2 linked regions of the Homo sapiens genome follow. The protein of the gene in region 1 purifies or fractionates together with the protein of each later gene. This does not show direct contact. Each region holds a gene or a part of one and is shown in the gene's direction. Other genes may lie near its edges.

Region 1 (6,829 bases):
GGCAGAGGTTGCAGTGAGCCAAGATTACGACACTGCACTCCAGCCTGGGAGACACAGCGAGACTCTGTCTCAAAAACTAACTAAACAGGCAGGGCACGGTGGCTCACACCTGTAATCCCAGCACTTTGGGAGGCCGAGGCGAGCGAATCACAAGGTCACGAGTGTGAGACTGCAGGGCCAACATGGTGAAACCCCGTCTCTACTAAAAACACAAAAAATTAGTTGGGCATGGTGGTGGGCGCCTGTAATCCCAGCTACTTGGGAGGCTGAGGCAGGAGAATCACTTGAACCCTGGAGGCAGAGGTTGCAGTGAGCCGAGATTGTGCCACTGCTCTCCAGCCCGTGTGACAGTACGAGGCTCTGTCTCAAAAAAATAAAAATAAATAAATAAATAAATAAAAATAAAAAAGTCAGATGAAGTGTCAGAAGGGCTTGGCAGACAATGTTCCACAATGTTCCATCATGACACTGAAGAAGTACAGGGAATTCCTGCTTGGTGGGATTTTTGTTTTCCCCATTACTTAAAAGCAGATGGCCATCTAGAATTGTAGAATGGCCCCATTGAAACTACAGAGATGGGGCCCCTTCAGGACCATACCTTGAAAAGACAATGGCTGTCCTCTTAGATGTGGTCTATGTTCTCAATCAGTGATTTTGTCCATAACCCAGAATACATGAGGTCCAAAAATCAAGGTGTAAAGGAAGGAATGGCACCATCCACAATCGAACATAGTGAGCTACTTTGGTGTCCTTCCTTTCCATTCCTACAAACCTGAAGTATTAGTTCTTGGTGTGTTAAAGAAAACTTTTTGGACAACATAGCTATGAGCATGAGTGAACATTTTATTACAATCTTACATGCAAGGAAAAAAGGTCTCTTGTTGGCCAATTAAGATTCACTCTAATAGGGACATTTTATAGGAGAAGAGAATAATTATCTAACCATTAGATCTGAGATTGGATCCAGAAAGACGATAGTCAGGGTAAAGGTAACACAATTCTTGGCTGGCAACTGGGGTACCAGGTGGGATGGTGGGGGGAGCACCAGCTTCTTAAAACAAGTTTCATCCACTGATGATTTATTTTAAGCATTTTGTCAGGAATTTTCTTCTCGCTGTGTCACCCAGGCTCTAGTGTAGTGGTGTGAGCTCGGCTCCCTGCAACCTCTGTCTCCTGGGTTCAAGCGATTCTCCTGCCTCAGCCTCCTGAGTAGCTGAGACTACAAGCAACTGCCACCACACCCGGCTAATTTTTTTTGTATTTTTAGTAGAGACAGGGTTTCACCACGTTGGCCAGGCTGCTCCTGACCTCGTGATCCACCTGCCTAGAGTTCTCAAAGTGCTGGGATCACAGGCGTGAGCCACTGTGCCTGGCCTTATTTTTATTTTTATTTATTTATTTTTTTTGAGACAAAGTCTCCACTGGAGTACAGTGGCATGATTATAGCTCACTGTAGCTTCAACCTCCTTCAACCTCCTGGGCTCCAGTGATTCTCCTGCCTCAGCCTCCCAAGTAGCTGGGGCCACAGGTGCATAGCATGAAGCCGGGCTAATGTTATGACTTCTTTTTTTTTTTTTTTGAGACGGAGTCTCGCTCTGTTGCCCAGGCTGGAGTGCAGTGGGGCTATCTGCAAGCTCCACCTCCCGGGTTCAAACCATTCTCCTGCCTCAGCCTCCCGAGTAGCTGGGACTACAGGCGCCCGCCACTATGCCCGGCTCATTTTTTGTATTTTTAGTAGAGACGGGGTTTCACTGGGTTAGCCAGGATGGTCTCGATCTCCTGTCCTCGTGATCTGCCCGCCTCGGCCTCCCAAAGTGCTGGGATTACAGGCGTGAGCCACTGCGCCCGGCCATGTTTTGACTTTTTGAAGAAACTGGGGTCTCACGATGTTGCCCAGGCTGGTCTTGAACCTCTGGGCTCAAGCAATCCTCCTGTGCTAGAATTATAGGCATGAGCCACTGTGCCGGCTGCAACATTTAATTTAATTAAAGTCTTTCTGTCACTCAGGCTGGAGTGCATGATCTTAGCTCACTGCAACCTCTGCCTCCCGGATTCAAGCGATTCTCCCCTCAGCTTCCCGAGTAACTGGTGATTACAGGTGCCGGCCACCACGCTTGGCTAATTTTTTTTTTTTTTTTTTTTTTTTTTTGAGACGGAGTCTTGCTCTGTCATCCAGGCTGGAGTGCAGTGGTGCCATCTTGGCTCACTGCAACCTCCACCCCCTAGGTTCAAGCGATTCTTCTGCCTCAGTCTCCCAAGTAGCTGGGATTACAGGCGCGCCACACCATGCCTGGCTAATTTTTTGTCTTTTTAGTAGAGACGGGGTTTCGTCACGTTGGCCAGGCTGATCTCAAACTCCTGACCTCAAGTGATCCGCCAGCCTCGGCCTCCCAAAGTGTTGGGATTATGGGTGTGTGCCACCACGCCCCGCTGCCAGCTGGAACATTTAAAAAACAGTAGGATCCGCTGGGCGCGGTGGCTGACGCCCGTAATCCCAGCACTTTGAGAGGCCGAGGCGGGCGGATCACGAGGTCAGGAGATCAAGACCATCCTGGCTAACGCGGTGAAACGCCGTCTCTACTAAAAATACAAAAAATCAGCTGGGCGTGGTGGCGGGCGCCTGTAGTCCCAGCTACTTGGGAGGCTGAGGCAGGAGAATGGCGTGAACCCGGGAGGCGGAGCTTGCAGTGAGCCGAGATCCGCGCCACTGCACTCCAGCCTGGGCGACAGAGCGAGACTCTGCCTCAAAAAAAAAAAAAAAAAAGTAGGATCAATATACCAGGAAGTCACATGGTGCCTCTGTCTCCAGATTTATCACTGTTGACACGGTTTTTCTCTCTTCCTGGAATCTAAGTGGTCTTTGCTTTGTCAGGGCCTGAAATAAGGTATTTCTTTTCTTTTTTTTTTGAGACAAGAGTCTCACTCTGTTGCCCAGGCTGGAGTGCAGTGGCATAATCTCGGCTCACTGCAGCCTCGCGACCTCCCGGGATCGGGCGATTCTCCCTCTTCAACATCCCGAGCAGCTGGGACTACAGGTGTGAGCCATCATGTCCTGCTAATTTTTGTATTTTTAGTAGAGAAGGGGTTTTACCATGTTCGTCAGGCTGGTCTCCAACCCGAGCTCAAGCGATCCGCCCGCCCCGGCATCCCAAAGTGCTAGGATTACAGGCGTGAGCAACATCGCCCCGCCTGAAATAAGGTATTTCTTCTGCCTGGAACCATCTCTTCTTTTTCATGTACCAGCCTAAAAGAACAATTACAAGACCCTCCTCTAACACTCCACCCACCCCCTTTATTCTTTAACTCTGTTTCTCTCCCTTGGGGCATTATCGGTTAAGTTCCATGAAGACAGAAACTGTTCCCATGCTCCATCACAGGGACTGGCACTGTAGAAAGAGCTAACAAGTATTTAAGGAAGATCCCTGGATTCGAGGTTACAGTGAGGTATGATCGTGTCACAGCACTGCAGTCTGGGCGACAGAGCAAGACTCTGTCTCTTAAAAAAAAAATCTTGCTGTGCTTTTTAGAACTAATCCTATGACCGTGAACCGATTACTTAAAACACCGAACTTCAGTCTGCAAATGGGAATAGCAGCAGCTTATGTTAGGACGGTTATGAGGGTCAAAAGATTTTGTTTGTACAGTCTACGACACCGGCCAGTGTTTCTAGCTCTGCTATTTGAGAGCCTTCCATGGGTCCTACACCCCAGGTCCTTAAACTCCCCTGAGGGACTACCAAGCCCCGCCCCTCTCGCATCCAATGATGACATCATCGACTGGGTTGTCGAGTGACGTCACCTCCGGGCTGGCTGGGCTTCATCGCTTCTCCGGAAACCTCCGACTCTCGGCACCTGGCCTCCAGCTTTCGGTTATTTTTTTTTTCCCTCTCCGTAGCCTGAATTCCTTCCCTCCCATTCTCCCACCTAAAACTATTGGCTCTTCCCGCCTTCCTTCAAACTAGCAATTTTCGGTTTTTCCCTCTTGCTCTCCGGCGAATTCCTGAAAGTCGTTTATTCTCCCCTTCAGCCCCGCCCGTTCAGCTCATTCTCTTAATCGCATTACCCTGGCTGCTTTTCTTTCGGCTGTTTCCACCTCCTGCCACCCACCCGGACACCGCTTTCGGCTCTTTCCGGACCGTCTCAGTTTCTCCTCCTTCCCCGGTCCCGATCGGCTTAGGCTATTTATGGCTCCCCTAGGTTTCTCATGCTCTCTCTAGCCCCACCCATATCACCACCTTCAGCTCTTTCTGGCTCTCCCCCGTCGCCTCCTCGCTCCTGCTCAGCTCCTTTCGGCTATTTCCGCCTCCCCTCGGCCTCGCCCTTTGCCTTCGGCTCTTTCCGCCGGCCTTCGGGCAAGCGGTCTCTACCCCTCTCCTGCACGTGACACGGCCTCCGCCTCCGCCTCTCAGTTCCCCCTCCCATCTCACCCTTCCTCCCGCCTCAGCCTCTAGGCTGGTTCGGGCCGAGCCGCCATTTTGTGTCAATTCCTGATTGCGGCGGGGGCCGGGCAGCCGGGGCACCCAGGGCGGGCAGAGAAGGGAGACAGTCGGCCCGTCTCCGCGGCCCGTTCCCTCTCTCCCTCAAATCCTTTTTTTCTTTTTAACCCCCCACCCCCCTCGCTCGCTCTCCTCTTCTCCCCTTACCCTTCGCTTGCTCCATCGCGCGCGGCCCGCGCTAATTACACCCAACCACCCACCAGTGTCCGTGTCTCCCGGGTGTCCCGCCCCCCGGGGGTGCGTGGGGGGGGGGCTCTCGCCCCTATGAGGGCCCCGCGCCAGTGAGCGAGTGACCGCAAGGGTGGGCTGCGGAGAAAGCAGGCGGCGAGCGGCCCTCCGAGGCCTAGGCCGTGCGGCCTACGCGGAGGTCAGCGCAGAGGTGATTCCGAAACCGAAAAAATATATACCCCATTCCCATCAGGAGCCCTCCGAGCTTAAGTGTGCCCCTCCCGCCACGCCCAAGCAGTCCTTTTTCGTGCATTAACATCCCCTCCCCCCCAAAGGAACTATGGAGGCCGCGCCCGGGACCCCCCCGCCGCCGCCATCAGAGTCGCCGCCGCCGCCATCGCCGCCGCCGCCATCAACGCCTTCGCCTCCTCCGTGTTCCCCCGACGCCCGCCCGGCCACCCCGCACCTCCTCCACCACCGCCTCCCGCTCCCTGACGACAGGTCAGGCCCCCGGTTGGGCCGGGGCTGCGTCCCCGGGGGGAGGAAGAGGAGGAGGAGGAAGGGGGGCGGCCGCCATGTTGGGCCGGGCCGCGGAGGAGGAGGAGGAGGAGGAGGAGGAGGAAGGGCGGGGTCGGTGGGTGTCTCTCGATCGCTTGCTCGCTCGCTCTTTCTCGCTTGCTTTCTCTCCCGGCCTCATGCGTTTCCCCCCCCTCGCGGCGCTCGCCCGCTCTCCCTCGCTCTCGCTCTGTCTTTTTTGGGCGCCATGCTGAGGGGAAGGTGAGGAGGCGCCCCTCGGACCCCCCGCGCCCGTCCGCCTGTCCTGGGGAGGGGGCGCCGTGGGGGGTGCTGCGGAGACCCACGGGGGTCCTGGCTGCCCCTGCGCCCGGAGCTGGCAGCTACGGGCCCGCTTGCCCGTCGCCTGGCTTCGGGGAAGGGGATGGGGGAGGGGCTCCGGACCCTTTTTGGGGGGATCTCGAACAACAGCCCCGCTCTTAGGGGTTTGGGGTTGGGGGTCTCCCAGCCCCCGGCAGTATCCTTTCTCCTGGGGGAGGCACACCCTGTCCTACTTGGATGATAGGTACTTTAGCTTAGGAGGCAGAAGGTGGGGGTTCATTCAGGTCCCTTCTCCATCCTTGTAATTGGGGGTCATTTGGGTGGGTGCTCTATAGCACTTGTATTTTTTGGCGGGGGGTGTTTTTTAGCTATCCCCTAGAAGGCCGAATTGGGGAGGGGGGAGATGCATCTCCAGCCCTTTTGATGAAAACCCCAGCCTATTTTTTTAGAGAAGACTCTTCCCCGTGTTTTTGCTAAAGGGCAGGGGTCCTCTCGCTTTTCGTAGGTAGGTGACGTGAGGGAGGATTCTCAGCCTTGTTTTGCGGGGGTAAGGTTTGGTTTCCCTGCCTTGTAGGGAGAGGAAGTTGGTCCCGCGCTTTCTCCTGGGGTTCCCCCCTCTGTCGGGGTAAAATGGGGCACCGTCTCTTCCGGGAGAGAAAAGGAGATTTCCTTGTGCTTTGGCAGGGCGTTAAAGGAAGCGCCCCCTTCTCTTTATTAAGTCCGAAACGCGGGCCCCCCACGCCCTTCTCTGGCTGGCGGGTGATAATGGGGTCAGCCCGGCGCGTTTCAGGGCGAGGTTGGGGCCCCGTTTCCTTCCCCTGCTCGAGCAGAAGGAGTTGGGGTGCAGGGTTCGCCCACTGTTTCCTGGTGGGGCGAGAGAAGAGGCGGCTGGAGAGTAGGTTTGGACACGGACGGTGGGTTTCAGCCGGCAGGAAAGCGAGTCTTGGAGGGAATGGGGGTGGAGAGGGGAAGAGAACGCTCTGGACAGATGGCTACTCCGTCGCAGCCCTGGCTGGGGAGCCGCTGAGGACCCTTCCTTAGCCGGGGGGTCTCAGCCAGGGCTTCCCTTGCCAGGCTGTACGTACGACCCCTTCTCCCCACTCCCACCTCCCCTTTCCCCTTTCTCCTTCACAGACCATACTTTGCCTTTTAAAAGAAATGCCACCCACATTCAGAGACACAAGTGCAGCAGTTTGGTGAGCTTTTACAACATTTTTTTTTTCTGTTTTGTTCTAATTAAATGTATCGTCCTGGGAATCGCAGCCCATCGCAGCCCGACTCCAGTTCAAGGAAATAAACAGATTAGCAAAGGTCTGTTCGCTAAGCCCTCGT
Region 2 (7,024 bases), on another chromosome or scaffold:
TGCCTTTGTTTGTTCCAGATATGGTTGTGGTATGTGTGTTTTATTGTGTTTCTTAAAATGGCAATTTTGGGAGAACAGGTATATATATGTATAGATAGGCAGAGTGGTTTAGAATTCACATCCAATTTTTGCTAATATTTCGCATCAACTCCTATTTATCTCGATGTATTGCAGGGTGGTGGCCTTGTCCATGTCACCTGTGGATGACACTTTCATTTCTGGGTCTCTTGATAAGACCATTCGACTCTGGGATCTCCGGTCTCCTAACTGCCAGGTAATGGTACCTCACAGTTATACTTTTTGAGCATTTTCTTTGGTAGGCACTGTAATGAACTCTACCTCTCAAAGAAGGGAGAAAACAGTGGTTCCATTCTGGGATCACAGGGTCTTTTTAAACTTTGGAGAAAATCTGTTTTTTTAGTTGGTAGCTGCTAAGCACATACCCTAATCTAGTGCAGATTGCATTGTACTCTGTGGCTTAATTGTTGTGGGTTTTTTGTTGTTTTGTTTTGTTTTTGTTTTTGTTTTGAGACAGGGTTTCGCTCTTGTTGCCCAGGCTGGAGTGCAATGGTGCAATCTCAGCTCACCGCAACCTCCACCTCCAGGGTTCAAGCGATTCTTCTGCCTCAGCCTCCCAAGTAGCTGGGATTACAGTCATGCACCACCATGTCTGGCTAATTTTGTATTTTTAGTAGAGACGGGGTTTCTCCATGTTGGTCAGGCTAGTCTCCTGACCTCAGGTGATCCTCCTACCTTGGCCTCCCAAAGTTCTGGGATTATAGGCGTGAGCCACTGCGCCCAGCTGGCTTAATGTTTTTAAAAGTGTTCCTAGAGCTTTTAGCTTCAAGGGATTTATTTTTATTTGAATTCTGTGTCTGTAATATTGTGCAGTTAGAGTTGATCAGAAATTGTTGTCTGGAGACCTGTTTTTTAAAAGCTTCATTTTAGTTTTATGTTTTTTTTGTGTGTGTTCTGTAGGTAGGCTGATATTTGTTTGTATGCCTTTCTTAGTTTTAATTGGGAAAAGTAAATTATATAGTGGTAAGGTCCTGGATTCATTTTTTTTTCCCCATTGTACCAGCAGTCTTTGGTTATTCCACGTATGGTTGTGGCATGTGTGTTTTAGTGTATTTCTTATTTCTTTTCTCTTAGGGCCTCATGCATCTGCAGGGGAAGCCAGTTTGTTCTTTTGATCCAGAAGGGTTAATTTTCGCTGCAGGTGTCAACTCTGAAATGGTCAAGCTTTATGACCTTCGTTCTTTTGATAAGGTAAATCTTTGAATCTTTGAGATCTTTGAGCTGTTTTTTGTTTTGTTTTGTTTTTGAGACAGAGTTTTGCTCTTATTGCCCAGGCTGGAGTGCAGTGGTGTAATCTCAGCTCACTGCAACCTCTGCCTCCCAGGTTCAAGTGATTCTCCTGCCTCAGCCTCCCAAGTAGCTGGGATTACACGTGTCCGCCACCACGCCTGGCTAATTTTTTGTATTTAGTAGAGATGGGTTTCACCATGTTGGTCAGGCTGGTCTCAAACTCCTCACCTCTGGTGATCCACCCACCTCGGCCTCCCAAAGTGCTGGGATTACAGGCGTGAGCCACCGCGCCCGGCCCTGTAAGAGCCTTTTCTACAAAAGGAAAAATGTGGTAGATATTAGAGAGTGGCAGAGAAGTAGCTCATTCTCTGCTTTCCTTAGTCAAAAAGTAATCTAAAGGAATAGGATGGGAATTGGCTCTAGCAGAAGAAATTATTAATATGCCTGGGGCTACTGTTTTTTATCTTTTGCAGGGGCCATTTGCTACCTTTAAGATGCAGTATGATCGAACTTGTGAGTGGACAGGACTTAAATTCAGCAATGATGGCAAGCTCATCCTCATTTCCACCAACGGCAGCTTCATTCGTCTGATTGATGCATTCAAAGGAGTGGTGATGCACACATTTGGGGTGAGCTGACAGCCTTCAAGCATGGCTGTTTCCATGCTCATACTTCCTATGCTAAGAATTATGTTAGCTGGTTGGTGGAGACCAACAGTTACTCTTGACTTACTCATGAAGGCATGCACTTGTATTTTCTTCCTGCTCATGAACTTACCTCTCTTGGATTTCGTAGATGTTCATTTCTCACCAAGTGACCCAAGTTTGGTATTTAGATATAAAATAATTTCCTAACAATAAAGTTTTCTTGCCCCCTTGAGTATGCCTTGAATACAGAGTTGAGGGTGGGAGTGGATTGTCAACGATGGCAACCACATTTGGAAGCTTGGTGGTGTAGTACATGACAAGGAAAGGGTTTCATGGAAAGGAAGGTGATGCATGTGCTGAGTCAGTGTTTGTAGGCAGCTGTTTTTATTAATGGCTCTGTAAGAACAAAAGAACTGCTCTGTTTTGTTTTAGGGTTATGCCAACAGCAAAGCTGTCACACTGGAGGCTTCATTTACTCCAGACTCTCAGTTTATTATGATTGGTGAGTTTCCTTTTATCCCCTGTGGGGGTTATTTCTCTGGTACTATGCATTTCTTTGTTTAAATTATTAACTGAGACATTATTATCTATTTGATAGATGTTCTTAGATTTCTGTATAGCACATTATGCCAAGGACATAGTGTCTTTTAACTGCCCTGACTGGACCAAAATTTGAGTTAAACTCCACAAGCACTACCTTATTAGTAATGCTAATGTCCTGGTGTAACCCTACATTCAGTCATCTTAGTGGCTGCCTGTTGGTAGGGTAATGGTATTCGGCCCCTTTTTTAGATGAGAAAACTGAAGTTAGAACGGAAGTGACATGCCTGTGAACAAATAGCTAGGGTCAAGATAAATTTCCAAAGTGTCCTTCCTTCACTGCCTCTCCTCCCTCTCAATTTTGCCTGAGGGATGGGTCCTAAAGCTTGGCGTATCCTCAGATCTCAATCCATGTCTCATTTCCAGTTGTCTTTGTATTGCGCCTTGAGCTGTTACATTTTCCGTGAATATCCTCTTTAGGTTCAGAGGATGGCAAGATCCATGTCTGGAATGGAGAGAGCGGTATAAAAGTAGCTGTGTTGGATGGTAAACACACAGGCCCGATTACCTGTTTGCAATTCAACCCCAAGTTCATGACTTTTGCCAGTGCGTGTTCCAACATGGTATGTGAACAGTAAGAGGTATCTGCTACTCAGGGACCCTTCCCAGTTGGGGTGGTGGGTGCCTCAACAAGCACAGCAAGCTGTGTTCTACATAGGTACATTACAAGCATCCAAGTACATGTTTCTCAACTGGTGGTTTCCCTATTTCATCTCCTATTATTTGATCTCTGGCTGGGCTGGTCTTGCCTTTCATTTTTATTCTTCCTAGAGGTGATCAGGAATCATCTTTGAGTTCCAAGGAGATCATAGGCCAGTTTTTGCTCTGGACCCTAATTTTAGGTCCAAACTACCTGGGCTATGCTTGGCAATTTTTTTGCTCCTTAAAATACTCTGAACCGGCCTTTTGTGGTTTCAGTTTTCCATTCCTGTTGGTTTACGCCAAATTCCCAGAAATTTCTACAGTTGGTCATAACTCACCACTTAGAATTAACTCCAGGCCCTTATCTCTTCCTAGATAATACTAACAGAACAAAGGATCAGTGAGTCTCAGCTCCAGTTTTCCCTTGTGATCTCCTAAACCTGCCTGGGTATTCGGGGATGAGACATTTCATTACTAGCCTACCCGGAGCACATTGCCACCTTGCTTTTTTTTTTTAACCAAGAAAAAAATGTTAGAAAAAATACAGCAAAACCATCCAGTTCCTTACTTTTTACAGCCCAGGAAGGTGGGGGCCTGTTGGAGGTAACCTGGTGGATTAGCAATGAGGACAGGTTACTTATTCACCCACCTCCCAGGCAGCACTCCTTTTTTTCCCTTCCTTTAAAAAAAAGGGGGCGGGGGGTCTGCTTTGGTGGAAGGTGGACAGTGATTATTGGAGAAAAACAGAACCATTTTACTTTCACATAGAGGAAAGAGTGTTTCTGTCTCCTTAGAGCATCGGGGTTGGTTGGTTAGGAGAGAGGGCTACCAGAGCCACTGGGGTTGGGCACATTTTTGCTGTGGGGTGGGATGTGAAGAACCGTTGGCAGTGAGGAGATGCTTGGCTTTTTAAAGTTGATTTATGTTCTCCTTCTAGGCCTTTTGGTTGCCCACCATTGATGACTGACCCTGTTGCTGCTTGGCTATTTCTGTATAGTGAGGGCGGCCAGCAGGAAGAAACTCAGAGGGAACTGAGATAATAGTGGGATTGGATCATTTGACTGGGCTGGAGAACATCCTTTTACATGGCCTTCCCATGGATGTGCTGTACATCTGCTCAAAAGAAAATAATTACTTTGATGAGCGTCTTCAAAAGGACTCTTGGTGCAACAGACTCAATTGGAACTCAGCTTTTCTAACTGTCACTGCACCAAGCTCTGCTGGAGGAGTGACCAGACTCACGATTTGGTATAGTGGGGCTCTCAAGCATCTTCAATTTGAATGTACATGCTGCTGAGGAGCCGGTGAAGTCATCAGTTCCGCACATCCCTTCTACCCTCCAACTGCATGGGAAGCCAAAGTCCTGGTTTTGAAATGCTTGGGCAGCTCAGCCGCTTGCCCTCACCCTGCATGTCTTGTTACTGGGTCTCCCTGTGTACTTGTGGCATTATCCACAACCATCATGTTTCTTAGGTGCCAAACATTTACAGAAACATTTTCATATATCTTGGGGTCAGAGAAAGGGACAGATACAGAAGGACCTTGCTTGCAGGAAGCCATGCAGTTAGTTTCTGCAGTTAGTCGTGTGAGGCTAGGTGGTTGGGCAGGCCTCGGGCTGTAGGTGTTGGGTGGGAAAAAGACCCAAGGGCCTGAAAGGGAGGGAAAGGGGAGGGTAGCGGGAGGGTAGCAGGTGAGTTCCTAGGGCTGGAAGGTTTAGCAGCAGCCTGGTGCAGTGCCCTGTCATCAAGACAAACCCACGGTCCTCCTGGGTGCCTACCAAGCTTGGTTTGTACAAAAGCAAGGTGGGAGTCTATTTTTGTACATGAGATACATCACACTTACCTGTGGGCCAGTATTGTGAAGTGAGTCTGAGTTGTTTACACTGATGCCTTCCCTGCCCACCACAAATTGTGTACATAGTCTTCAGATGATACCACCCCTTTCCCCAGCTCCCAACCAAGAGCTGGTTCTAGGCCTGTGTTATATGTCATATTTAGCGTTTTTATATATGACCTTTGATTTCTGTTGTTTGTATTTTAGCACAGTGTATGCACCTTCATTTAAATACATCTGTGTGCATACAGATACGCATATATGTGTGTGCGTATGCATATATCTCTCATCTGTAGTTTCCAAGAGTTCAGCTGAAGCAGATGGAGTCCTGCAGCCCAGGAGACACCCTGCATCCCTGCTAATAGTGTTTGCCACAAGTATTAGTGAGTCTTCCTTATTAATATTTTCATTTCAGAAGACTGAAGCAAAGCTGATAGTGTTTGCTGTTTCTTTGGCAGCTAAGTGAGGGTCTTGGGATGACTTGCTGTGTTCCTCAAGCTGCACTTTGGGGCCATCTCTGCAGTATTAGCCCCCTTTTTGCTTGGTGGTACTCTGTCTGTGCCTGTGTGTGTGTGTGATAGTCACTCTTGCATGGCTTCCATGTCTGGTTTGTGGCATTTGGGGATAAGGTGCTGAAGCCAGAGCATTTGCAGTTTGTTTGAGGCCTCGTTGCCAATGATAGATCACTCCTGTTGACCTGGTATGTCTGCTTGCTTGCTGCTTTTCCTTGCTTTCTCTTGGAAGAGGAAAGGACTCTGGTCAGGCCCAGGCTGAGTGAGATGAGCTGCAGCTGGCTCATGGCCTTCTTAGAGCAGAGAGAGGAGTATGTCATTTTACTAAGTTCCTAAACAAACATTTATGCAGGCAACACTCCTTGCAGATCCAGAAACTGAGGCACAATAGGGTTATGACTTGCTCAAGAATATGTAGCTGCTAGGGGGTAAATCAAGGCATCACAATTTCTGTTCAGCGGGCAGGAATAGGCTGTGAATTGCTAGCACTTTTTTTTTTTAAGCAATTACTTTTTGACTTGTTCCTCTGAAAGTGCAAGAGGCGTACACCTTTCCCAAATGTAGACTAGAATCTGCAGGATGCCACCCACTGTATAGTTCTGCTTTCCCAGAGAGGAAGAACTTTTAGAAACCAAATGATCTTAATTGTTATTGCCCACCCCTGGCTTTTCCGGGTAGAAAATTCACAGTAGGAATGATTGTTAAGAGAGAGTGCTTGGAACCATGGGTTAACAGGAAAGGCTACCTAACTTCACATATCTGCAACCAGAGCAGCCACCAAGCATTACTTAGCAGCAGGAAAATGATTGTATTTGAGTTCCTGTGTGTCCAAAACTGAGCACCATGTTCTTTGAAAACATGCCACCTCAAGGCTGGGCGCGGTGGCTCACACCTGTAATCCCAGCACTTTGGGAGGCCGAGGCGGGCGGATCACCGGAGGTCGGGAGTTTGAGACCAGCCTGACCAACATGGAGAAACCCCATCTCTACTAAAAATACAAAATTAGCCGGGCGTGGTGGCATGCGCCTATAATCTCAGCTACTTGGGAGGCTGAGGCAGGAGAATTGCTTGAACCCAGGAGGCGGAGGTTGCGGTGAGTTGAGATCGTGCCATTGCACTCCGGCCTGGGCAACAACAGCAAAACTCCGTCTCAAAAAAAAAAAAAAAAAAATGCCACCTCACAGTCTCTATCGTTGGGCCCTGTGGTTGCAAAGCTGCCTCCTGAATTAAGAAGGAAAGGGAAAAGATATAGCTGGAAGCGAGTGGAAGAGATGCTGAGGGCTGGGGCTGCACAGACGTGCTCAGCAGGGCTACAGGTGCTCAAGCCCTATTGGGGATGGGTGGGGAGTGGGGCAGCGGCGTTTGCCACCTTAAGAATTGGGGCCAAAGCCACTGATGTTTATTTGACAGTGACACTGCACTGGGTACTTAAAGAAATTATTTCCCGTTGTAATTATAATTACTGCTTATTAAGGAAAATAT

Evidence for each region.
Region 2: the proteins of ZC3H4 (region 1) and WDR82 purify together in Homo sapiens (affinity purification with western blotting; 4 studies listed by BioGRID and IntAct, with this or other methods). This does not show direct contact.

Annotation. Positions count from the first base shown.
Region 1 is NC_000019.10:47,110,759-47,117,587, reverse strand, and holds the start of ZC3H4 (zinc finger CCCH domain-containing protein 4), read left to right. Parts: upstream 1-3,811; 5' UTR 3,812-3,868; exon of another isoform or gene 3,869-4,874; intron 4,875-4,998; 5' UTR 4,999-5,003; coding exon 5,004-5,164; intron 5,165-5,329; exon of another isoform or gene 5,330-5,426; coding exon of another isoform or gene 5,427-5,440; intron 5,441-6,631; exon of another isoform or gene 6,632-6,655; coding exon of another isoform or gene 6,656-6,693; intron 6,694-6,713; exon of another isoform or gene 6,714-6,829. UniProt on the Homo sapiens protein: RNA-binding protein that suppresses transcription of long non-coding RNAs (lncRNAs). LncRNAs are defined as transcripts more than 200 nucleotides that are not translated into protein.
Region 2 is NC_000003.12:52,254,630-52,261,653, reverse strand, and holds part of WDR82 (WD repeat-containing protein 82), read left to right. Parts: intron 1-174; coding exon 175-274; intron 275-1,152; coding exon 1,153-1,269; intron 1,270-1,781; coding exon 1,782-1,937; intron 1,938-2,387; coding exon 2,388-2,457; intron 2,458-2,975; coding exon 2,976-3,118; intron 3,119-4,134; coding exon 4,135-4,164; 3' UTR 4,165-7,024. UniProt on the Homo sapiens protein: Regulatory component of the SET1/COMPASS complex implicated in the tethering of this complex to transcriptional start sites of active genes.